Homo sapiens: one gene and its partners. The protein of the gene in region 1 interacts with the protein of each later gene in a biochemical or structural test. Each region holds a gene or a part of one and is shown on either strand. Other genes may lie near its edges. The genes, in order: CSPG4, HTRA3, FRMPD1, PDZK1, DLG2, SIPA1L2 and PATJ.

Region 1 (4,130 bases):
AGGATCTACCCTGCTTCAATTTCTTGTACCTGGTGTCCCTGTGGCCCTGCTCACTAAGATACCCCCATCAGTTCTGAGTCCCCACCCAGGTAACACACAAGCCCTCCCTGCCAGGTACTCCCCAACCTGGGTCCCACTTCAACCCCTCACATTCTGCCTTTCAGTCAGTGATGCCAGGGAAGAGGTGTGGGAGCCACCACCCCTGCCTGCCCTGTGCTCACTGTGACCCCCCGACTAGAATGTCACCTCCTTCCTTCTCTGCCTGTCCTTCCAGTATCAGCTCAAATCCAATCTCCCCCAATGCTTGGCTCTCTGCTGGGGCCTCCCATACAGCTCAGAAGGAGCTGGACACCGCATCTGTCACCCACACTGTCTCAGTGGCCCAAGCCTAGGCCCCGACGCAGGCTGGGAGCACCCTCGAAGCAGGGCTGGGGGCTCTTCCTGGGCTGCTGGGGTTCTTGGTGGAACTCAGAGTACTTTTCTTCCTCTCTGGGGCCTCAGTTTCCCTCTCTATACAAGTGGAAGATTGGCCCAGATGGCCTCTAGGGTGCTGACTGCCAGGCCCCCTGACCTGGATGCCTCAAATGTTGATGAGTAGAGGGAGAGCCTCCCAGCACGCCTCATTCGGATACGGGAGGACGAGGGCCTTTGCAGCCAGGGGCATCCAGGAGGGGTGGGAGGGACGCCTTCCTCAGGCAGGGGCTGCCCCTACTGCAGAAATCAGGGCAGGCAGCTGGACCAGGAGTGGTGACAGAGATGGGTTGCTGGACGGGAGCTCTCACAGCCCCTCCTCATTTCCGAGTCCTCCTAAAGGCAGGGGATGGTGTAACTTTATAAAACCCCACAGCACCATGCTGCTCTCTTGCCCTAAAACCCTTGTGGCATCTCCTTTGCCAACAGGGCATAAGGCCGTGGGCTTCATTTTGCCATTTAAGGCTTCTGTGCCCCAGCCCAGTGGTTCTCCCTGGCCTGTGCTCGAAATACGCCTCCCAGCCAGGCTGCTGGCCTTCCTGTCTCAACACCCCTCTGCTTACGCCCACCTTGGTGCCTCTGAGTCAGCGCCCCTGCCTGGAGGACTGACTCCCTTCCCATCCACCAAGGCTTGGTTTGAGGCCCACCCTGTGTCCTGCCCCAGCTTGCCCCTGCTTTTCTCCCCTCTGTACTTTTCATCCAGATTTTTGCTGTTTGAGATTTAATTTGCCTTTCTGCCTCCTGAATGAGTCTCAGTTCAGCCTCTCAATTTCCCGTGCCCCTGCGAGCCTAGCACCATGCCTGCATGCTGTCAGGGCTAAGAAGGTATTTGAGAATGGCTCTCAGTTGAAGCCCAAGGAGGTGGGGGTACTGGAATCCCTCCTTGGCTGGAGGCTGGGGCCTGAATGAGCTGACCACCCTGGTCACCTTGGATGCTCCCTTCCCATCTCCCTGGCGGCCCAGCCCATCCCTCAGGCCCTGAGATCTTAGGGGATCTGGTCCCTGCAGGAACAGGGAGCCTGGAGATCCAGCCCTGATTCACCCCGCGGGGGTCCTCCCTTGACTCACTTCCCTTCTGGGAACCATGTGATGCCCTCTTTTAGAGCTGGCTTCTCCATCTGAAGGAGAGAAGGGTGTGGCCTGGGCCCTTGTGAAGGAGGCTCAGGCCCTGCCTTTGCTCCATGTTGCTCTTGGGAATGATCTCGAAGGTGTAGCTGAAGCACTGAATCACACGTGGGTAGTGATGATGGATGGGCCCTAAGGCCACAGTTCTTATGGCATAACTAGAGCTGCCTTCGCTGAAGGAAGAATGCTGTCATGTTGGGGTTTCTGGCATCGGGACAGAGAGGGGATATATCCCAGCACTTCTCGGAAAGCGAACTTCCATTCAGCCTCTGCTGGGTCAGGCATCAGTGCTGGGATGAGGAGGTGTGGCAGGGGGTGGTCCAGAGCTATCTGTAGGACAAGCCCCGCTGAGGGGCACCAGCTCTCCCTCTAGGAGGCTGAGAGTGGGTAGTGGGTGGGGGGTCCTGCCTGTCACCAACAGGAGGAGGGAGAGGAGAGAATGAAGAGGGGAGGTGGCAGATAGACGGATCTGCAAGGAAGCAAGGGGAGGAAAGAAGGGGCAGAGCTGGGGGGCAGCTGGAGGGGTGTGGGGGTGCTCCTCACAGGGGAGGGCAGGGTGGCTCATTCCTCGTTTCCCACCTTGTAGCACTCCCCATTCCTGGCCCAGGGCATCTGAAGCTGGAGGACCCACTTCTCACTGTCGCCGGGTCCCTTTGGACCCCAACATACTCACCCCAAACTTGCCTGGCAAACAAAGCTCGGCCAGCATTGGGGTGGCCCCACTGGTGTCTCAGACAATCCAAACGGGCAAAGCCACGCCCTAGGCAATCCATGCCTGGGGCGCCTGCTCCCGCCCCTAACTGGACAGCCTTGGCTAGCTAGAAACCCCATAACCTGAGATAGCGGGGTCCCGTGTCCGCCCCAGGATTGAACCCCTGGCGACCCCAGCTAGTGGTGGGAGAAGCGCAGCCTGCTTGACTCCCGATCTGGGGGCCACTTCTGGCTCCTCCTGTCCCTTTTCCCTCCCGGAGGAACCCCTCTAGTTCCGCCAGGCTGGGTCGGGGTCTCAGGCCCCTCACTCACCCGCGGATGCAAGTCTGGCCAACATAGTCAGGGTCAAAGCCAAGGCCAGGCCGGGGGCTGGAAGTGGGGGCCGCGGCCCGGACTGCATCCCGGCGGGCTGGGCGGCAGGACTTGCGAGGAGCCAGCGGAGTCCTGGGAGCTGGGAGCTGAGTGGAGCGAGCGCGGCTCTGCTCCTGGGCGCGGGCCGGCTCCGGGTGTCCGCGCACTTAACTCCGGGGGCGGGGCAGGCGCAGACCCGCGCGCCCGCTCGGGTTTCAGGCTTGGACTCCCCCACCTGCCCCCACCCTCAACCTTCTTAAAGGGCCCGTGCGGGGCTGTTCCTCTCTGGGGCAGGGGTGAGGGGGCCCTTGCAGCTGGGCCAGACCCCAGCCCCACCCTAAAGACTTAGAACAAAGTCATAGAGAGGCCCAGACACCCTGAACTCTGGCCCCAAGAGCCGAGCCCGGGAGACCCCCTCAGGGAGGAGGCATGAACTGTCCCAGCCCCTACTTCCCTCCTTTCTGCCTTTGCGGGAGTTCAGGAGACCCCTCCACAGGCACACTCCAGCCTTAGGAGGAAGGACAGACACCAGCCACCCTCACAGGCGGCTTTTGGGCTGCTTTGCCTCGGAGGTCCCCTAGGAACTTCTCCAGACTCCAGAGGCACCACCCGAGGTCCTGTGGGGCACTGCCCATGGCTGCAACAGTGACCTTCTCTGCCTGGAAGGGCCTCACCTCAGTCTCCCTGTCTGTAAGGGAGAGATGTCTGGATTTCCTCGCAGGGCAGAAGAATTCTCAGTCCCGCCATGACATTTGCCTCAAAATAACCTTGCAAGGTGGGTGAGGAGCATCCCCTCCCCCATTTCATGGAGGACGAAAGTGCAGCTCAAGCTGAAAGTGGCTCTTACAAGACTCCAGGTGGAAAGTAGGTCCCTGGCCGTTTGGTGCCAGAAGCCCAGGCCTCCTGACCCCTGAATCCGGGTGTTTCAACTTCCCGAGGCTGCCTCCTGGAAATCTGGCCCTGGATTTGGCTTCTACCTAACAGCTTCAGGCTGGGGCCCTTCTGCTGGCTCCCTTCCAGGCAGCAACATCAGCCTAGTCCCAAACAGGAGGAGAAAGGGCAATGTTACTTAGCTTCCGGTGCCTAGAGGATCTGCGTGTTCTCTGTCCAGTCCCAATGTTACCGGGCCTTGGTTTACTTCCTCCATTCAGGTCCCTCCATCTATCTGCTCCAGCCCATCTCCAGCCCAACCCCACCTTGCACCCTCTTCCCAGCTCTTCCCTTTGACCAGTAACAGCCCAGCACTTCATACTTTGCAACGAAACTGAGACCTGTTTTGCAGATGAAGAAACTGAGGCTGAGAGAGATTAAGGGACTGGAGCTAGTCTACATAGCTGCTGAGATGTGGGGCCAGGTCTTTGACCCTAAGTGCAGTGCTCAGGTGTGATGGTGCCTGGTCCATGTGGGGGTTATGAGTATTGGTCTTGAAACCAGAGAGACCTGGGTTCAAATCCCAGCTCCCTTACTTGGTT
Region 2 (3,500 bases), on another chromosome or scaffold:
CGACGTGGAGCCCCGCACAGGATTACGGGAGCCCTTGGTGGGCGGGCGCTGGTGTGGGAAAGACTCAGGCCGCTCCTCTATTCTCTGTGCTCAAGAAGCTTCAGTCAATGGCAGAGAGAATGCCAGGTGGCGGAACCAGGCCTGCACATTGGAAGGTGAGGGCCCGGAGAGATGACATTTTCCATTGCTGACCGGCCGAAGAGGCAGAAATAACGTCTGAAATCTCTGGGAGGCCGTGAACTGAGGAGGGTCAGCCCGTCCTCCCTGCACCCAAGGAGGGTGCACAGGTGAGGCCGTGAACTGGGGAGGGTCAGCCCATCCTCCCTGCACCCAAGGAGGGCGCACAGGTGAGGCCATGAGCTGGGGAGGGTCAGCCCATCCTCCCTGCACCCAAGGAGGGCGCACAGGTGAGGCCATGAGCTGGGGAGGGTCAGTCATCCTCCCTGCACCCAAGGAGGGTGCACAGGTGAGGCCGTGAGCTGGGGAGGGTCAGCCATCCTCCCTGCACCCAAGGAGGGGGCACAGGTGAGGGTCAGGAGCCTTTCCCATGGCTCGATTTAATGCCTAGGGGCTAGGAGGGCGTTTCCCACCTCAGCTCATGGCCATGGGTGCTGACCAGGGCCTGCAGGACATGAATCACACTAGCTCTGCTGGCACCCATTTGCCACAGGTGGCTGGTGGGGCGTCCTGCTCAGGCCCACCTGGATACCACCCCACCAGTCCTGCCAGCATTCTGCCACAGCCGCCGGAAGGGGAGACAGACCTGCCCCTAGTCTCGCTCTCCTCTTCCCACAGGGGTCCTCGAGCGGGGGTTGCAAACTGGCCCAAGGCCCAAACGCTGTCCATTGCCTGTTTTGTGAATCAAGCTTCACTGGAACGCAGCCACACCCACCTGTGCAGCCTAAGGCTGCATTTTTGCCACAGCAGAGATGCGTGGTTGTGACAGAGACCACAGGGCTTGCAAAGATAAAATATTTACCATTTGGCTTCATGGAAAATTTGTTGGCTGGGCACCATGGCTCACACCTGTAATCCCAACACTTTGGGAGGCCGAGGCAGGAGGATTGCTTGAGCCCACGAGTTCTAGACCAGCCTGGGCAATACAGCGAGACCCTATCTCTACCAAAAATTTAAAAATTAGCCAGGTATGGTGGTGCATGCCTGTAGTCCTAGCTATATGGAAGGCCAAGGTGGGAAGATCCCTTAAGCCCAGGAGTTTGACGCTGCAGTGAGCTGTGATTGTGCCACTGCACTCCAGCCTGGGCAACAGAGCGAGACCCTGAAAAAAAAAAAAAGAGAGAGAGAGGGGGAGGAAGGGAGGAAGGAAGGAAGGAAGGAAGGAAGGAAGGAAGGACGGACGGAAGGAAGGAAGGAAAATTTGGGGGTGGGGTGCAGTGGCTCATTCCTGTAATCCTAGCACTTTGGGAGGCCAAGGCAGGGGATCACCTGAGGTCAGGAGTTCAAGACCAGCCTGGCCAACATGGTGAAACCCATCTCTACTAAAAATACAAAAATTAGCTGAGGGTGGTGGCATGCACCTATAGTCACAGCTACTTGGGAGACTGAGACAGGGGAATTACTTGAACCTGGGAGGTGGAGGTTGCAGTGAGCCGAGATCCTGCTACTGCACTCCAGCCTGGGTGACAGAGCAAGAACCCGTCTCAAAAAAAAAAAAAAAAGGCTAGGCACGGTGGTTCACGCCTGTAATCCCGGTACTTTGGGAGGCCAAGGCAGGTGGATCACCTGTGGTTGGGAGTTCAAGACCAGCCTGACCAACATGGAGAAACCCCGTCTCTACTAAAAATACAAAAAAATTGGCCAGTGTGGTGGCACATGCCTGTGATCCTAGCTACTCGGGGGGCTGAGGCAGGAGAATTGCTTGAACCCGGGAGGCGGAGGTTGTGGTGAGCCGAGATGACGCCATTGCACTCCAGCCTGGGCAACAAGGGCAAAACCCCATTTCAAAAAAAAGAAAAGAAAATTTGCCAACTCCTGTCCGTGAGCACACCCCTCAGTGGGTTTCCTTAACTTTAAAATGGAGGTGATGCCCCCAGACTCAATCGCGACCGTGAAAAGTCTGAAAAGCAGGGAAGGGTCCCCATTAGGGGAACTCCTTGGAACCATTAAATCTCCTCTCCCTTGATGGGGCAAGAGGAAACCCCCTTGCAAAAGATTTCATCACAAATGCTGTAAACGTTCATTCAGAAAGAGAGGAAGCCAAATTCAAACCAGCCAAGGTGAACTTCCCAGTCCAAGGGAAGCTCCGGGTCCAACGCTGGTGTGAGACATGGGACTCAGTGACCTCATGGCATGGGGAGCTGCAAGTAACTCAACTGTGGTCCCCAGGGTCACATAAGCATGGCATTGGGCAAGACAAGAACAAGCTGGAGGGAGGCCGGGGTCCTAGCTGAGCGGGCCAGCCCTGCTCCAGTGCGCTGTGATCTTGGACGAGTTACCTAACTTCCAAGCCTCAGTTGCCCCGTCTGAAATCCCAAGATAATGAGGTCCCTGATATGGTTTGGCTCTGTGTCGCCACCCAAATCTCATGTCAAATTGTAATCCCCATGTGTTGGGGGACGGGCCTGGTGGGAGGTGATGGGATCATGGGGGCAGACTTCCCCCATGCTGTTCTCATGGTGGTGAGTTCTCACGAGATCTGATGGTTTTAAAATGTGTGGCATGTCCCACTTCACTCTCTCTCTCTCCGGCTCTGCCATGAGAAGATGTCCCTGCTTCCCCTTTGCCTTCCGTCATGATTGTATGTCTCCTGAGGCCTCCTGGTCATGCTTCCTGTACAGCCTACAGAACTCTGAGTCAACGAACCCTCTTTTCTTCATAAATGACCCAGTCTCAGGTAGTTCTTTATAGCAGTGTGAAAACAGACTCATACAGGCCCTTTCCTCCCAGGCCTGTGGTGAGAATTAGAGGAGTGCAGTCAGCGCCTGGCTGAGAGCAGGCCTTCCAGAAACAGCCGGTGGAGGAAGAAGAGGATTCTGGGGGCCTCAGTGCAGGCCTCTTCTGGGTCAGCTGGTGGGAGGTACAGACGTGAAGGTGGAGGGATGGGGTCCCTGTCCCAAGTGTTCCCCACGGCAGCCCCCTGGCCTCCACGCCCAAACCCAGATGCCATCCCATGGGGCAGGTGCATCCCCAGTAGTGGGCCCAGGTAAGACAGTGAAGAGCCTCCGTGGGGTGTGATATGGGACCACAGCCCACCCACTGTGGGCCACATGCTTCCTGGCTCTGCCCTGCACCTAGCGGCTCAGGGAGCGCAGGACAAGGAGTCCAAAGACCTGGGTTCTAGGTCTTTTCCAAGCCGTGACCCTGGGCCAGCTGCCAGTCCTCCCTGGGCCCAGTTTCCTCCCCCTGGCTGATGGAAGGTGGGGCTAGCTTGCCTCTGGGTTCCGGCGTCTGGGAAGAGGCCACCATGCCCAGCCCCAGGTGCTTCCGCCCCTCCACCCACGCCCACCCACCTTGGGATGGATCTTGATGGTGGCAATGTC
Region 3 (3,500 bases), on another chromosome or scaffold:
TGTCCTGCCAGGATCTCAGTTCTGCTTGGAAAGACCCTCCACACTCTCGGTGGAGGAATGTATGAGGAACCTGATAGAAACACAGCCACCAGATCCCCTACCTTCTGATGTCAGGGTCCCTTGGACCCCAGAAGGCCTTGCAGGGCCACAGACGGCCTGTCTGTCTGGTTCTTCTTGCTTCAAGGCCTCCTTTAATGCAGCCTCAGGATCAGTGATGACATAGCCACTTCGCTCTGCCGGGCACTCCTGTCAAGCCCTTTCCTTTTTTGTAAATTCTGTCCCTCCCACAGGGCCCAGCCCATTTGCCCCCTCTTCTGGGAAGCCTTCCCTGATTCCCACTGTTGGATGAATCCCTCCCATCTGCTTGCCACAGTTGTCTGAACCTCCCTTGCAGGCCTGCCACGATGCCTAAAATTTGGTCCATGGAATCTGTATCTACCTCCTCAGAAGTGTACAGGGACCCTGTTTCACTCATGTGCCTTCCTCTCAAGCTTGGCCCCAGGCCTTGATCCCCGGGAGGCACTCAGGAGCTGCCTGCCGTGTCTGCAGACCTGCAAGGGACGGCTCACCTGACGGGGGGCCTGGGGGAGTGAGCTTATCAGCCGCGTCATAGTATTCCTCATCTGAGCTGCCATCCTCAAAGGCCAGTGGTGGGTGCAGGGCCAGGGGTTCCAGCATGGAACTGGGCTGGGCCTCAGTCCAGCCCTGCTGACCCCAGGCTGGCGGGGCTCCCCCTTGCCGGGAAGCTGTACTCTCGGAACTGTCACTCAGGTAGCTGGCCGGGGAGACACTGGAACACAGGCTGTAGTAGTCAGCGTGGCTGCCTTCATACAGCCTGGGGTCCAGCCTGACTGTGCTCAGTTCTGGTGCCCAGCCAAATGTCTCCAAAGCAGCACTCTCGGAAAACTCTGTCTTCTGGCACTGGGGGTTGGCTCTCTGGGCCAGGTCCAGGAGACAGAGGAAGCCACTGGTTTCAATCCCGCTTCTCTCCTCCTGGCTGTCAGAGTCAATGCTCTCTGCGAGGCCTGGCGAGCCAAAGTGGAAGAAGGTGGACCTGCTGGAGGAGCAGGTGTCTAAGTCATCCTCTTCCAGAGCGTCCATGGACTCACTCGAGCCACTGGTCCTGTAGCCGCGGCTCTCAGTGTTGGCTGAGTCGGACGCCTCGGACTCGGCACTGTCTGTCGTGCTGCTGGCCCCGCAGGTGCTGGGGCCCCTCCTAGCCACCTCAGGTGTGGGGCTGTTCCCAGGAGGCTGCTCCTCCTTTATGAGTGATCTGCAGGGTGCCAGTTTCACCAGGCGCCTGTCAGAGAGAGGTTCGAGTACGCAGTCCACCTCAGAGGACTCCTCTGAGTCACTGCAGGCCCTGGATTCATAGCCTGCAACACAGGGTACAGCAACAGTTACACAACAGAATTCTCCTACCTATGTGTCCTTCTAGCCCCCTGACCCCCACCCAACCCTGCCAGACGAGAAAACTGAGGGCCAGAGGGTGGCTGGCCTAAGACCGTCCTATACTGACGAACACGGGATCCGAGGGACTCCAGCTTCCATGTTCTCCCCATGCTATCAGACCGCCTGTCCCACATCTCTCTGAGCTAAAGGAGGCTGGATTAACTCCATCCCCACCTCCAAGGAGAACTGTCTGTTCATGGAAATGTGGTATTTACTTTGATTCCTCTTTGTGTGGGCAGCACTGCCCAGGTTTGCTAAGCCCCTCCCCAGACCTCAGTTCTATCCTGCCTGGGCGTCAAAGTCAGATGGGGAATCATATTTTAAAAATACAACAGATCCTTGGCCCTACCCCTGATGTACTGAGTCAGATCGCTAGAAGTGGGGCCTGAGAATCTGTATTTTTAGCAATTTTATGACGAGTACGAGGCTGCTAGGCTGGCACCATTCTAAAGCCTGGCCTTCTGGATCCATGGGTGCTATGGGCTTTGTAGGACAGTGAAAACTCATCCAGCGGCAGGTTCTCAGGAAGGATTAATGGTAGGAGGCTGGGGAGCACTGAGCCAGGTTGCAATCTCTTTATTCCTGTAAGCCTCCAGAGTGATCTTTCTCAAACTTCTCTCTGACCTCATCACACCCTGCTTAAACCCTCTGATGGCTGCCCTGCTTACGGGGAAGAGCCTGGCCTCCCCCACAACAGTTACAGACTCTCACAGTATGGCCTTGTTGCCCTTCTCACAGGATGGCCATGGCGCCTCATGCACAGTCTAGTCCTCCCTTGCCTCAAAGGATGGCCCTAAGGCCTCCTCTGCAGGCTCTTCCCCCTCTCCCAGGATGGCCCTGAACCCTCCTCTGCAGTCTAGTACCCACGACAGGATGGTCTTGACACCTCCCCTTCAGTCTAGTGTCTCCCTCACAGAATGGCGCTGAGGTCTCCTCTGTAGTCTAGCTGCCCTTCTCGTGGTGGGGCTCCTATCTCTTTTCACCATCTCCCTTTTCCCCTCTTGCAATATGGTCCAGCCCCTCCTCAGGCACCCAGTCCCCCATGGCAGCCTTCCCTGCCACGTTCCAGCCACCCATAGGGAGAGCTCCTTTCAGGTCATGGCCTTTTCCTCGGGTCATTCCTCCAGGCCCCCTCGGCCTTGAATGATCTGTCTTCCTTTTCCGTGCCTGGTTAACTCCAGCATGTTCTTCAAGATCTATTTCCAATACCTCTTCCTCTAGAGAACTTTCTCTGACAGGCAGCAGCAGTCCCCCCCACAACCCCTCCACAACAGCCCTGTTGCCACTCTGCGTTGTCTCCCTGAGCAGACTCTGAGGAGTCACCCCTCGTTCATAAATACATTGTGTAACAACAAAGGTAACAGGCTGGGCGCCGTGGCTCATGCCTGTAATCTCAGCACTTTGGGAGGCTAAGGTGGGCAGATCATTTGAGGTCAGGGGCTCGAGACCAGTCTGACCAACATGGCGAAACCCCATCTCTACTAATGTACAAAAATTAGCCGGGCGTGGTGGCAGGTGTCTGTAATCTCAGCTACTTGGGAGGCTGAGGCAGGAGAATCACTTGAACCCAGGAGGTGGAGGCTGCAGTGAGCCAAGATTGCACCACTGCACTCCAGCCTGGGTGACAGAGAGAGACTGCCTCTAAAAAAAATAAAAATAAAAACAAAGGTAACAGATACTCCAAACTCATCACTTTCTAACTGTTTTACTTATTGTATTAGTACCTATTCTCTTGAGCTGATTTCTACTTTATCCATATAGAGGAAACACTCTACAGTGGTGTGCTATTGATCACCTCTTCCCATCTCCACATTCATCATGGTATCATCATATCGTGGTAGCCTGAAATTACCCATCGTGAGAATGTTGACACCATGGAATTGGGCAATTCCTTCAAACTGTTTTTGTCCCTCTGCAGGGAGTTGTTAAGCATTTATCAGCACAGCCCTAGGTTCATGCTGCATCAATGGTGCTGAGGCAAAAGCCTGGCAGAAACTGGGAGCTGGCCTAGGAAACTGTCTTACCTGCCTTGCAGAGAAGTTCTTTTA
Region 4 (3,500 bases), on another chromosome or scaffold:
TGTGTCATACGCCCTTTCTTTGCATTTGTAGAATCAGAAAGCATCTTTACCATTCTCTCCTCTTCAGTTTGTACTATTATATTAGCCATCGTATGCTGTGGAGTCATCTCACCAATGTAGGCTAACAAGGACAGGCACAGGAGGGAGGGAAGAACCCGAATGCATTTAGGTGGTGAGATTTAGGTGCTACTTATAGAAATGCTGTCAATTCTTCAAAGATATTAATAGAGCAGTTCCCCCTTAACCATGGGGGATACATTCCAAGACCCCCAGTGGAGGCCTGAAACTTTAAGATAGTATACCGAACCCTATATGTTTTTTCCTGTGCTTACATACCTACAATAGAGTTTAACTTATAAATTAGGCACAGTAAGAGATTAACAATAACTGAGCTAATCTTAGCAACCTCAGCATACAGTATTTTTTCTTTCCTTATTAAATCGAGAACTTTTCACTTAATAGAAGCACTTTACAGCCTTTTTTTTTTTTTTTTTAACAGATGGAGTCTCGCTCTGTCACCTAGGCTGGAACGCAGGGCCGCAATCTTGGCTCACAGCAACCTCTGCCTCCCCGGTTCAAGCGATTCTCCTGCCTCAGCCTCTCGAGTAGCTGGGACTACAGGCGCCTGCCACCGCGCCTGGCTAATTTTTGTATTTTTAGTAGAGATGGGGTTTCGCCATGTTGGCCAGGCTTGTCTCGAACTCCTGACCTCAGGTAATCCACTCGCCTCGCACTCTCAAAGCGCTAGGATTACAGATATGAGCCACTGTGCCCGGCCACTTTACAGCTTCTCTTTGTCATATCTGAACTGCCAGCATCACTATCCTTGCATTTTTGGCTTTTTTTTTTTTTTTTTTTGAGACGGAGTCTTGCTTTATCGCCCAGCCTGGAGTGCAGTGGCGCAATCTGAGCTCACTGCAACCTCCGCCTCCCGGGTTCACACCATTCTCCTGCCTCAGCCTCCTGAGTAGCTGGGACTACAGGCGCCCACCACCACACCCGGCTAATTTTTTGTATTTTTAGTAGAGACAGGGTTTCACCGTGTTAGCCAGGATGGTCTCGATCTCCTGACCTCATGATCTGCCCGCCTCGGCCTCCCAAAGTGCTGGGATTACAGGCGTGAGCCACTGCGCCCGGCCTGAGCTATTATTTTTTATTGATACATAACATTTGTACATATTTATAGGGTGTGTGTCATATTTTGATACCAAGAGCATATAATGAACAAATCAGGGTGTAATATTTAGGACATCCATCCTTGAACATTTATCATTTCTTTGTGTTGAGAATATTTCAAATCTTCTTACAGCTATTTTGAAATGTACAATACATTGTTGTTAACTACAGTCACCCCACTGTGCTATCAAACATTAGAACTTATTCCTTCTCTCTGTGGGTTTGTACCCATTAACCTAGCTCTCTTCATCCCCACCCTACCCCACACACATACCCTTCCCAGCTGCTGGTATCTCTCATTCTACTCTCTACCTCCATGAGATTCACCTTTTTTAGCTCCCACATATGAGAATATGTGATATTTTTCTTTCTGTGCTGGGCCATTATTAAGCAAAATAAGGATTATTTGAACACAGTACTTTAATACCGTGACAGTTGACCTGGTAACTGAGTAGTAAGTAGTAAGACTAACAGGCAGGTAAGCACATGCCACGTGGAGATGCTAGACAAACAGAGGATTCATGTCCAAGACGGGGCAGGACAGCACAAGATTTCATTACACTACTCATAATGGTTCACAATGCAAAAATTATGTATGGAATTTTCCATTTAATATTTTCAGACCACAGTTGCCTGCAGGTAAGGTAACTGAAACTATGGAAAGCCAAACAGGATAAGGGGGGACTCTTGTATGTCAACCTAGGCAAGGGATCGCTTGCTAATGACTACATAAATCACTTGTAAGGAATGACAATAACTTAAACTCTGCTTCCTTAAACACTCAGCATTTCTCCTGCTACCTTGTTATATATTTGTCATGAAGAGACCATTTTCCTCATAAAGCTAACCTAAACCATTCACCATGTGCATTAGCACATGAGCCAGATGAGTAGAATCTGAATTATGATTTTCTTTTTTTTACCACTTTACTGATAATAGGCTTCTAAGACGTGCCAAGCTTCCTTTGACTATACACACCACTGTGTTTAATAACTGACAGACCTGAGAAATACCCCTTATCGTGAGTTTACATCTCTTGGTACAGGTTAAATAAGCCTTAGAAACTATTTTAAATTTACCACTGGTCTGCTGCTGTATCACTTGCCAAATCATGACCTACCACCAGTGCTTCTCCAGCCCCAGAAAGAACATAGGCAGAGGCAGTGTTCAAGAAGGAATTGACCAGCTAACACAGCTCCTCTGGTTCCAACCAATACCCCAGAGCCACGGTCAACTGAACACAGGTTAGTCTGCACCTCTGAAATTCTAGAAATAGAACTTCTGGTGCTTCCTGATGGTCAGGGTTTCTCAAATCACTATGTACCTCTTAGCCAGAGCTCAAAGATGCGCCTCAGAACAGGTGGGGCTGAGCCGCAGCTGAGGGTACTATCAAAATGTTACAGGAGGGTGGAAATTTTTGCGGTATTCTCAGCAAAGGTAACAGTGCCTGGCACATCAGCAGGTGCTCAAGAATTTGTTGAATAAATGAATGACTATCTGGGCACTCAGATAAAAAAAAGATACCAATCTTACTCAAAAATAGCTATTATGAAGAATCTCATTTTTCTTGCCTTTTATTCCTTATTCTGCCCTTCATTTTCACCCTAAGAGGGCTAGAAGCATCAACCCTCTGGCCCCCTGACCTCAAAGAGTCCTCAAGTGCCAGCCTGACAAACACTCAGGGACAGGAGTACCCAGTGCCCCCCACCCCCACTGCTGTCCAGTGTCCCTCCCCCATTGCACAACTGTGCAAGGCAAGGGAAAGGGCAGGGAGGGAGTGAGAGACGGAGGGAGGCAAGCTGTTGCAAGCTATCTATAGCAACTGAAAAGTCAGTCAAAGAAGAAAAGTCATTAACCAGTAGCATCTTTGTTCTGGAAGCCTGTTGTCTGTGCCCTGCCCCTGCCTCCCCCTGCTCCCCAAAAAATTCTCACCTTGGACAGTTTTCAGAGAGAAGCCATAGCTGCCTCCTTCCTTCACGAGATAGCAGAGCCGGGGCTGGGTCCAAGTTTGCACACCTCCATTCATCACAGGGGAAAGTATATTATCACTCAAACCTTGCTCCTTCTGACTTTGACCCAACTCTTTCAAGTCCACCCGTGTTTTCACTGCTTTCTCATAGGAATCCCCATCCAGAACTAGTAAAGTCACTGAATTCCCACTCTTTCTGACCAGATCCACAACCTAGGAGGGAAGAAGAAAAAGGTAACTTTAATAACCCTCTGCCAACTGCCAGAGGGAAATGCTGACCATCTGGCTCAATATCTGGCCCTGGAGATGCTGCTAGTTGACCCTTGACACCCAAGTAGAAGCAGGTAGTTCCTCA
Region 5 (3,500 bases), on another chromosome or scaffold:
AAGCCCCTCAAGGCCCGCAAAGTGCCACAAAGACATGAATTTTCTCTCCTTCATCACAGTGGCTTTTTCTCTTTCCCTTTGTCTCTTCCTCATTACCCATAGGGCTTTTCATTCTTGGACATGGAAGTAAAAATTAGTTTAAGATGCTGAATTCACAGCAATTATGTCATGCCCACCTCCACGGGTTTCCCCACAGGCTTCCTGGGTATTACACAGTACCTGATTGCCACAAGGTCTTGAGAATTGGGGTGGCCCGGACATAAGGGATGCTGCCATTGCTGTCTACCAACACTACTGCTCTGAACCAGAACCAGAACCAGTGCCTTTCATAGAAAAGTAAACCAAGAAGTGATGGATAGACAGAGATAGAGAACTCTTGAACAAAATTAATCAAAGCTATGCTTTGCCCTAGTTGTCTGAATCGCAATCATACACACTGACATCAAATATCTTATTAAAGATTTGCCTTTAGAACGTTCCATCAGAATGATTTGCAAAGCCATTGGGAAGAGATTTTTATGGGAACTTGATGTGCTCTATTTATTTAGAGAAAACGATGCTTTCCAAAGTTAAATGACCATATTGACAGAAACACAAAATAGAACCTACCGTTGGCCTCATCACTCATCCTGTTTCCCATGACTGAAATCAGAATGCAAATTTGTTGACATCTTTCTTTATGTTAAGCACTCAATGGGGCACTGGAGACATGGTGATGAATAAAACTCAGTTCTCGCCTTTATGAAACTCCCAGCCTAATAAGGAGGTCCAAGAGTTACCTGACATTTAAAGCTTTTGTTATCCCATGGTCAGAATTCTTCCCTTGCACATTAATTGTTGAAGATTTCCCCTGTAAAGTTATAGTCTAAAATTGCAATGTTAGTCTACGATGCTTCTATCATTAAAACTATACTTTCTCCCCAAGAATTTTTACACTTCTTTAATTGACCCACAGCATTTTCCTGATGAAGTAATACTAAACTAAAACCTTGAATGCGTATACCCTCTACATCGCTCAGGCTTTAGATAACTGGGGGTTAGTAATCAATCACCTTCATGTTTTTTGGCCTAGGCTCTGTACATTTCAGTAGTTTATTCAAAGGGAATCATTCTTTTCCTGAGTACAAGAAATAGTGAATCTGACTCCTCACTGACCAAACCCCTGACCAATGTGGCAGAGTCCCCTGAACACTTCTGGGGTGGCCATGGGTACATACCACTTAGGAGGAGCATCAAGGTCCACTCTCTGTACCCTTAAGAAGTAGCTTGGCATGGTGGCGCCATTCTGAGCCCAGGCCCTCCTTGGGACTGAGATAAGATATGACTTCAGCCTGAGGCCATTTCTCACACTTGAAAAAGTAAGACACTCCTATCCCCATCCCATTCCAGCTACCCAGCCTCCAAGGAAGTCATCCAACTTCGCAGCTATACCCACATATTGCTCAATTTCCCCAAATCAGTCTCATTATCAAAACAGTCGATCATATTAACTCTTCTTATGAAATTACCTCTCTTTCTGTGGTGCTGTGGCTGTTGAAGGAGGAAAACCTGGCATTGATAGACTATGAATGTGCTTCAGGGGTGGGTGGTGAGGATATACAGCAAAGGTGAATTGCCCTTTGGTTTCAGAAGTTACCTCATATTCCACTTCTGCTCCACTATTTCTTCTAGTAGACAGAAAGTTCTTTTCAACAGCCCTAACCTATTGCTGTTCCAAAGGTTAGTCAATGCAAAAAAAAATGCAGACACTTCCGGGTTTGCAGGTGAAATTGAGCTAATCCTCTGACCAATTAATTCATCAATTATATAAAATAGATGATTGAAAAAATAAATGGCAAAAACCAATTTACTTTCTATGGTTATTTGTTGACTTGAGGTCCACCCTGAGTCAGAAGGCTTGTAGCAGATGACATTGGAGGGGCTGACATTTTACTACTGTGTCTTCCTTAGTTCTCTATCTGAAGTTTCAACGCACAGTTTAGCAGCAATTATAACCAATGATGTAGGACACACCTCAATTTTTGATCTTCATTAATTGACCCACAGCATTTTCCTGACGAATTAATATTAGAGTAAAACCCTGAGTGTCCTGATGAAGTTTTTATATCATAAATGAAATAAGCATATACTTGCTTTTGAACAGTGTGCTTCTTGGGGAAATAAAATAGAAGATGAAATAAAAGGTACAGCAATTCTGATTATGTAGCAGCCATCTATTGAATTGGACCCTTTCCTTGAACTAAATGGCTTCCTTTTAAGTAGTAATGCTTGGTGTAGAGGCCATGGCATTCCATTCTCAATGCCAGACAGAAAGAAGTCTCACAGGTCATTGCCCTGCAGCAAATAGCTAGCAACCAGTTATTACTTAGAGTTATGACTGTGAAAATCTGATACTAAAATGGTGCTAAAGAGTTTTATGAGGATGAAGTTATTTTTGAATGGTTCAAGGAGAAAGAGCAAGGAGAATTAACTCTGAGCTGTGTCTGTTTCCTGTGTTTCAGAGCAGGGCTTGTCTCTGTAATATATGACTGTTAGTTCACTGTGGTTTTCTTTCCTTCTCTTCTCAGGAGGACAAGAAGACCTCATTCTTTCCTATGAGCCTGTTACAAGGCAGGAAAGTAAGTTTCCCAGCACGCTTTCATTCCTAATTTCTGGGCCATAAGAGGTGACATCATTGAAGGAGGGAAAGAGTGAAGGACTAAGGAGAATAAACTCGGCTTAATGCTCTGTTGTCTTGAGACCGTACCTTACTCTTACGCTGTCTCTCACTTTCTCTCTCTTTGACCCTATCACCAAACAGACAACTTCCTGCTGAGTATGGGCACTAATAGCACCTAAGAGAAGGATGCAGCCCTCCAGATGAGTGGTCCTCAATGGGAAGGAACACATTCAAATTACCTAAAGAGCACTAGCTACGAGACTGGTGAATAAATTCTCCTGAGAGACTGATGTCAGCTCAGTATTGAGAATGACTTTCTAGCAGATCTGCCTAAGATGTAGGCTATCTGTAAGCTGCTGCTTTTTCCTGGAGGCATTTATACAGAGGCTAATTGCTACTGACAAGGATACTGCAGAGAGAATTCAAGCATCAGATGGGGACTTGTACCCAATGAACTCTCAGGTTCCTTCTAATCCCAGATACAAGGAAATCTAGAAACTGTAGCAAAGTATAGAGAGTATTTTGATCTGGGGAAAAGAAATCATGAAAACATAAGATGTTATTACTACTAACAATTACTTTTTATAGTCATATCTAAACAATAGCCAAACAGCTGGTTTGGATTCTTTTTTCTCCCACTCAGTTGACTAAATTCAGTTGTTTTGACATTATGTAGGCAGAGCCAGAGAGTAAGCAAAACTCCTCCAAATGTTTCTTTTCATCAACAGATACTGCAATTGCCTTTCCCTGCTAGTAGATTCCAGAAAGTAGGCACTGCCAATCTCCTGAGTGTTAAACATCAATTTCCCTATGCAAGGCTGTATGAGTAATTTATCCAGTG
Region 6 (3,500 bases), on another chromosome or scaffold:
AAACAGCTGAGTTCAATTAGAAACTTTCTAAGGAGAATAGCATCGCCATTACATTAACCTCCTACCCCTCAATAAATGAAACCCCAAACCAAGACCCACAAGCAATTCTGGAAGAAAACAGGCCAAAGTCAGAAATGTCTTCGGGAAAAAGAATAAATACACAGTAAATATAAGGCCCATCAAGAGTGGAGTTTGTCTTCCGCTTGCCTCACAAGACCCTACAGGCTCCCTAGAAATTCCATTTCTCAACTGCTATAAACTCTAACCAGTGATAGTACAACAGTGGTCTCTACACAGGGGCCACACATTTCAAAGATACAAATGCCCTTGAGATGCAGAGAAAATACTTCTACATCTATTTATTTTTAATATTAATCTTCTTAAAATGTACATTTGTTTTATGTCCATAATATCTTAGCACAGTAAAGTATATGTTTATACATACAGATATATTATACATATACACACACACAAACGTGCATGCAGATATGTATACATGTATACGCATACATACATGAACACTTAGACAATTGTGTATAGATGGGATGCACGTTGAAAAAAGTTTGAGAACCTTGAGAACCTGCTAAAAAGAAACCACTGTTTCTTGCATTAGGCCATTTAAACACCTGAAACAGGTAGCATTTGCCCTGTACAAAGAATCAAAACTATAATTCCTAAAATTACTTATTAGAAACTTCAATACGGAGAGGACAGTATCCCAAAGCTATTCCTGAACAATGTGAATACCCACTGTTCAACAAGGAACCAAATGTGTTATCAAAACCACCTCCAGAAGACAGTGAAAGTAGTTATGCTGACTTCACAGGACACTATGTCTTAAGCATTAACCAGAACTTTCTTTTAAAACTCCACACAATAGTTCATCTCAGCAGACATAATCTTTTATTCACCCAGGAGTTCTTACTTTCCACAATAACAATTTTTAACACTGGCTCTTTACCTAGATATTTTTACTTAAGAGTTTGAATAAACTACCAGATAGCTTACTTCGGACTGTTCTGATTTCTTGAGGAACTCAACTAAATGGGGATATTTCTCAGAAGATTAAGCAAATATGTAGAAGTGAAAAATATGGAGTAATCTAATGGGCAGAGTTCAAGACACCCCTTTTGGCTAAATGTTTATTAGTAAAATAGGAAGAGAAGTATATCAACCAATTAAAACAAAACCGGAAGAGACTGTGGTGTTCTTCCCCACTATCTGAAAGCAATTCAACACAAGAGAATACCAAACCAAAAAATAAGCTGAAGAAAGTCCAACAATATTCTGATTTTTCCTAGAAGCACTGCAGTTCCTAAGGCCTCCGGAGGTCACAGATCACAGTGTGACCCTAGTGTCTCAATCCAGTCAGTCATTTAACACATTTTCTTAATCATATGCAGAAGAGAGTGCTCGTTACTAGGGACACACTGAAAATGAACTCATTATTACTCAGCATAACTTGGTCAGTAGAACCAGCAAAGGAGGTTTGACACACTCTTTCAGGATATCCATGTGGAAAGGTGGAGCTATATGGGCTAGTTATAAGATATGAAGAGCATTAGTAGTTAACTATAACCGAGAGTGTGACTCCTTGTAAGCCTCGAGGGAAGCTTCCAGAGACACACTTCGTGTTGTTCAGCCAGTTTAACAATTTCATCACCGGCTTAAGTAAAGATATAAAAGAGTCTGATCTAATAATGTACAGACAGCATTTCTTTGGGAGGACAGGTAAAGGTGCCAAATAATATAATCAAATTCTAAAAAGCATGATGGAAAGAATCAGCTAAAATAAAGCAAAACCACAGCGCAATAAATGTTAGGTTTTGCAATGACATCAGCGCAAGATGGAAAGACGAGGTTCAATGGCAGCATGTGATTAACGGCTCGGCAGGTTTTAGCGAAAAGGAAACTCGTTGAGTCTGGCCACCAGAAAAGTAAATGCAAACTTGGACTACATCAGTGCAAGCAACATGCAACCTATGACAAGACACTCCTGCTGTACTCTACACAGGTCATGTTCACGGGTCACGTTACACCAAGAGCCCAACTCTGACAGAGACTGAAGGATTTGTTCTGTAGGCCACCAAGGCAGTAGAATTTGAATAAACAAGCAGAATCAGATTTCAATTCTATAGGCCAAAAAACTTTCTAGTACTCAAAACCATTAAAAGGTGGAAATCACCACCCGTTACTTGCAATGTTCAGGTATTACCGGAAGACCACTTACAGAGATTATATAAAAGGATCCAAATATCAAAGAAGGGTTAGTTGAGCTACTCAGTGATTTCTAAACCCCGGTCCTTAGTGAATTTTTCATTGACCCATGCAAAAGAAAAAAGTGTCTGTGTGGGGATAGATATAAATCCACGAGTGGGGTAATTTTAACACAGCTCCTCTCTGGATAGGAAGAACTCTCCTTTAAGTCTGACAGCATACATATTCTTCCCCCTTTCCCCACCTTTTCTCTTTTTTGGTACATCAAAAGGATTTTGACGAAATGCATTGACAATAGGTAGTAACTGCTGTTGTCAATTTTAAACACACTTATGTAGCAACATTAAATGCTGACATATCTGACAATCCCTAATATTTGCTTTTTTTTTTTTTTTTCATTTTACAGGTAGACGAAAACAAAAGGTATAGGAACAACATGACGAGACAATCTTTAAGGTCCTTTCTGGCCCAAAGGAGCATGACAACTAGACTCGACTTGCTGCATATTTTCTTCCTTCCTACCACCCAACTTGGCTATCTAGTACTGGGGGAGAAGAACGAACCAAGGAATTGGGTTGCACTAAATATGAAATCTCTCAAGAAGCAGAACCTCAACAGTGAGTCAAGATCTGGCTCCCTTCTACAGCTGCTGTTCTTTGGAACCAAAGTTTATGAATCCAGTTCAGAAAGGATCAAAATAATCTATGTCTAAAGTTGGGAAGCTTTTAAATTCCTACCACATTGTTACCACACTTTTAAAAGGAGTCACAGCTACATGCAACTGGAACACAAAAAGCAATTTCTGAATCATTGATTTCAAGGTAAACCAAGTAGCTATGACCCTCATGCAAAGCATTCACATACAAACTTACTATAGGCCAAGGCAAAGAAATGACATAATCATGAAAAATATAAACATCCCAGTCAGACAGGCATTTTCATTACTCTAATGCGTTCGTCTTAAACCTTAAAGAAACCCCAAATTTTGGTGCTGAAAGGGATCATGAAAATAGTTTCATCCAAATTCATTTGTGACAGGTGGTAGAGGCAGGAAGCTCAAGGTTCCTGTCTGTGCCTAAAGCTTTTTCTACTCTCACTCTGCAAATGAATTAGGCACATTAACAGAAGTAGAAAACCTAGAACATGGTTCACTATTCTCTAGGACTGTACTTTGTATTTCATTGAAGTTCAAAACAGAAAGAAAAAAAAAAGCAGCTTTTCAATTAACAATACCCTAGTCTAAATTTTCTTCAAATTCAGTGTGTCTTTAAAAGGATTTGTAA
Region 7 (3,500 bases), on another chromosome or scaffold:
TGTTTGCCAAGACCTTTATTGCATTGTATTGTAATTTTTGAGGAGTCTCCCTCTGTCACCCAGGCTGTAGTGCAGTGGTGCAATTTCAGCTCACTGCAACCTCCGCCTCCCAGGTTCAAGTGATTCTGTTGCCTCAGCCTCCTGAGTAGCTGGGGTTACAGGAGCCCACCACTATGCCCAGCTAATTTTTGTATTTTTAGTAGAGACAGGGTTTCACCAGGCTCTTTGGCCAGGCTGGTCTTGAATTCCTGCCCTCAAGTGATCTGCCCGCCTCGAACTCCCAGTGCTGGGATTACAGATGTGAGCCACCACGCCCGGCCCCAAGACGTTTATAAAAGTACACTTTGCCTGACTGTGTTCCCTTAGTTGGCTGAGGAAAAGATCTCGCAAGTATTTTTTCCTCTGTGGAGTAAGGAAATTTCTTCCTGGTTTGGGGGAAAGTCATTTTAAAAAAAGACACTTGGTGGCCCCAAAGCTAGAAGTTATTTCTCTCTTAATGAACTCACTTTCTATGAATTAAGTCAAGAGCTTATTCTCCTTAGCGCTCAAAAGAAGGCATTGATCTCCCTATTTTGTAACTGCTCAGAAGGAAATCTGTGTTCCTACAAGATCCTGATTTTTTAAATGGGTCTGGATGTAAAAATGTTTGGCAATGGAATCTTGTTTTTGCCCACCAGGGTCAGTCTTCAACTCATCATGATGGGAAGACATTTCCTTTTCACAGTCGGCTACCAGCCTTCTTCTAATTAGCCAAATAGGGCAAACTCTTCTATCTCACCCATAATTTTAAGCACAAGGTGATGATAAGATATATTTACTGTTTTTAAAAATTGAATTAAACTCCTACCCTCTGAAATTAAAATTCTGTGTAAGAAGATTAGGGCAAAGTATTTGATACTTTGTCCCAGGTTTCCAAAATATGACAACTCACATTCATATACCAGGTAAGTGGAGACGATAGGTTTTTTTTTTTTTTGATATTTAATGATGTAGCTTCTAAATTTGGTAGTTCTGTCTTTGAGTGTGAACTTAAAAATTATGAAGATGCGGCTGGGCGCGGGGGCTCACACCTGTCATCCAGGCACTTTGGGAGGCCGAGGTGGGTGGATCACCTGAGATCAGGAGTTTGAGACCAGCCTGACCAAGATGTTTTGAAACCCCGTGTCTACTAAAAATACAAAAATTAGCCGGATGTGGTGGCGGGCACCTGTAGTCCCAGCTACTCGAGAGGCTGAGGCAGGAGACTCACTTGAACCCGGGAGGCGAAGATTACAGTGAGCTGAGATCGCGCCATTGCACTCCAACCTGGGCAACAGAGTGGGACTCCGTCTCAAAAATAAATAAATAAATAAATAAGAAGATGCTCACATACATCTCTCAAGAGGGACAGAAATCCATTTCTATCCACTACCTTACCTATCGATCAGTCCAAACTTTTCTTAAATCACACAAACACCTGTTACCTCTTTGTGCCTTTGTGTATGCTATTTTCCCTGTCTGAGATGCCTTTTCCTTCTTTTCCCCAAACTCCATTTGGAGTGAGATTCAATGGAACCTCCTCTGTGTAGCTTCATTCTAATCTTCTGTATACAATAAGGCTTTAATGAAATCATTCAACAAAGATGAGTCTTCCATTAAGGAAGAAGCCTGGCTAGACAACTGTTTCGTTTGTTGATATAAGTCTGGTCAATATCATCACTAACTATTAACTCATGGAATCCTACAGCAGCACCATGTCTTAGATATTTGCTGCCCATTATGTAAGCCAGAAATGAAAAAAAAAAAAAGTGTTTCAAACTTAATATGGTGTTTATTGGGTTTGACTGCTTTGAAGATTCCCTAAGACAAGCCAGCTAGTCTGTAATCCTATCTGAACAATGGTATTTTCCTCACTCATTTTTTAACACCAGTGAGGAACAGGAGGCAGCTAATAGCTTTCCAGAAGTAACTGTGTGCTAACTGTAAGATCAGAGCACCTTCTGAACAAAGGCCTTGGAGAGGCTTCAGAAATAAGGCAACCAGGGAGGGGACCAAAAGTCATGCTTTTAACCTCAAAACTAAGGCGGCCTATCCATAACCCAGAGAGGAGACTTAGGGGTCACATATAAGTTTCTATAGTCTCATTATGTACCACATGGGGCTAACCATACAGTCTACCATCTTGATTTTGTCAGCCATTACAATGAAAAAAATATAGTGAAATATACTTTGCTAAAAAAAAATGGCACTTACATCAGCTTTGCAAATAAATATAAGATGTTTGCTAACCCACAAAATATCACCCACTAAGCCCTCCCTCCCACAGGAAAAACCCCCACACTTGGTTCTCCTAGGAATATGCCATTAATTGCCCTCGGCATGTGTGAGTGGCTAGTCACAAGTTAACTTTATAGCAATATTTAATTGAATGAATAGAACAATGTTGTGCTAATGAGGGTCAAATTGCCACCAGATGTTGCCTTTTTTTTTTTTTAAATAAACACAGCTGTGTACATGCGTGCATAGGCAATATAGAACTAATAGAGAGAAAAGAGCTTCCAAGAAAACATTTGCAAGCAATAAAGGAGAGAAAAATCTAGGGATTAATGAATTTCCATCCCACCTTTCATTTTTATTTCAAACACATGAAAGTTCACTAAACTTGGTGCTGTGAATATGCTGTACATTAGATATTATTTCCAAACAACCATTTATTAAATGGGGAACTTTCTCCCAGTGGGGGCAGAAGAGTGAGTCAGTCTGATGAGAAGCCATCGACAACCTGACTGTTCTGTGATGTCGTCCTTGCGGAGGTCCAGGAACCAGCTCGGAGTCTTCCAATCTCTAGCTGCACAAGTCCCTGTGCACACTTGGAAAGGCAAGAAAAGAACAGAAATGAAAAGTAGTAGCATTTATATTCTGAAATATCTTAACAGAGCCTCTCCCTGCAGCCACAAATTATAAAAGGGTAATGAAAGCAACAGGCATAGCCCTAGAGAGAGGAGGATGAATTCTGTGGCTCCTGGAGGGCCCATCTCATCAAATGCATTTAAAGAACAGTGATGGATACTTAGAATTCTCACAAGTATGAAAAACTTGCTTGTGAAATCCCAAAGCAGGTTCCCTTTCATTCTGTTAGTCAATATAACAGAACTTTCTTTTAAAGCTATTCTGGCTCATTTAAAATAATCAGAGATTAAATTTCTAGTAAAAACTAGAGTTAGTATAAAATCCAACCCATTTTATAATCAAGCTAGACTGGAACAGTTCCCACTGGACTTCAGTTGTGCCAGCTGGGTAAAAAGCAGCCTAGCAACTCACCTTGAGGATGGTGGCCACTGTCTCCTGTGAGGCATTTCTCATGTCCTCCCCATTCACAGATAAGATCTGATCTCCCTGAATCAATCTCCCATCCAGGTCTGCGGCTCCGCCTTTCACGATGTCAGAAATAAACACTCCGCTTCCATTTCTGTTAATACCATACAGCAGTGCAGTATTGGCACAACCTAATATTTCCATGC

What was found.
Region 2: the proteins of CSPG4 (region 1) and HTRA3 interact in a test that uses a peptide from one of them, tested with the Homo sapiens proteins (one large-scale study listed by IntAct).
Region 3: the proteins of CSPG4 (region 1) and FRMPD1 interact in a test that uses a peptide from one of them, tested with the Homo sapiens proteins (one large-scale study listed by IntAct).
Region 4: the proteins of CSPG4 (region 1) and PDZK1 interact in a test that uses a peptide from one of them, tested with the Homo sapiens proteins (one large-scale study listed by IntAct).
Region 5: the proteins of CSPG4 (region 1) and DLG2 interact in a test that uses a peptide from one of them, tested with the Homo sapiens proteins (one large-scale study listed by IntAct).
Region 6: the proteins of CSPG4 (region 1) and SIPA1L2 interact in a test that uses a peptide from one of them, tested with the Homo sapiens proteins (one large-scale study listed by IntAct).
Region 7: the proteins of CSPG4 (region 1) and PATJ interact in a test that uses a peptide from one of them, tested with the Homo sapiens proteins (one large-scale study listed by IntAct).

What each region holds. Positions count from the first base shown.
Region 1 is NC_000015.10:75,710,049-75,714,178, forward strand, and holds the start of CSPG4 (chondroitin sulfate proteoglycan 4 precursor), read right to left. Parts: upstream 2,801-4,130; 5' UTR 2,708-2,800; coding exon 2,620-2,707; intron 1-2,619. UniProt on the Homo sapiens protein: Proteoglycan playing a role in cell proliferation and migration which stimulates endothelial cells motility during microvascular morphogenesis. May also inhibit neurite outgrowth and growth cone collapse during axon regeneration.
Region 2 is NC_000004.12:8,286,754-8,290,253, reverse strand, and holds part of HTRA3 (serine protease HTRA3 isoform 1 precursor), read right to left. Parts: coding exon 3,471-3,500; intron 1-3,470. UniProt on the Homo sapiens protein: Serine protease that cleaves beta-casein/CSN2 as well as several extracellular matrix (ECM) proteoglycans such as decorin/DCN, biglycan/BGN and fibronectin/FN1.
Region 3 is NC_000009.12:37,737,954-37,741,453, reverse strand, and holds part of FRMPD1 (FERM and PDZ domain-containing protein 1), read right to left. Parts: intron 1,377-3,500; coding exon 570-1,376; exon of another isoform or gene 102-569; intron 1-101. UniProt on the Homo sapiens protein: Stabilizes membrane-bound GPSM1, and thereby promotes its interaction with GNAI1.
Region 4 is NC_000001.11:145,683,369-145,686,868, forward strand, and holds part of PDZK1 (Na(+)/H(+) exchange regulatory cofactor NHE-RF3), read right to left. Parts: intron 3,359-3,500; coding exon 3,109-3,358; intron 1-3,108. UniProt on the Homo sapiens protein: A scaffold protein that connects plasma membrane proteins and regulatory components, regulating their surface expression in epithelial cells apical domains.
Region 5 is NC_000011.10:83,471,845-83,475,344, reverse strand, and holds part of DLG2 (disks large homolog 2), read left to right. Parts: intron 1-2,567; coding exon 2,568-2,618; intron 2,619-3,500. UniProt on the Homo sapiens protein: Required for perception of chronic pain through NMDA receptor signaling. Regulates surface expression of NMDA receptors in dorsal horn neurons of the spinal cord.
Region 6 is NC_000001.11:232,623,634-232,627,133, forward strand, and holds part of SIPA1L2 (signal-induced proliferation-associated 1-like protein 2), read right to left. Parts: intron 1-3,500.
Region 7 is NC_000001.11:62,116,480-62,119,979, reverse strand, and holds part of PATJ (inaD-like protein), read right to left. Parts: intron 3,449-3,500; coding exon 3,301-3,448; intron 2,849-3,300; coding exon 2,762-2,848; intron 1-2,761.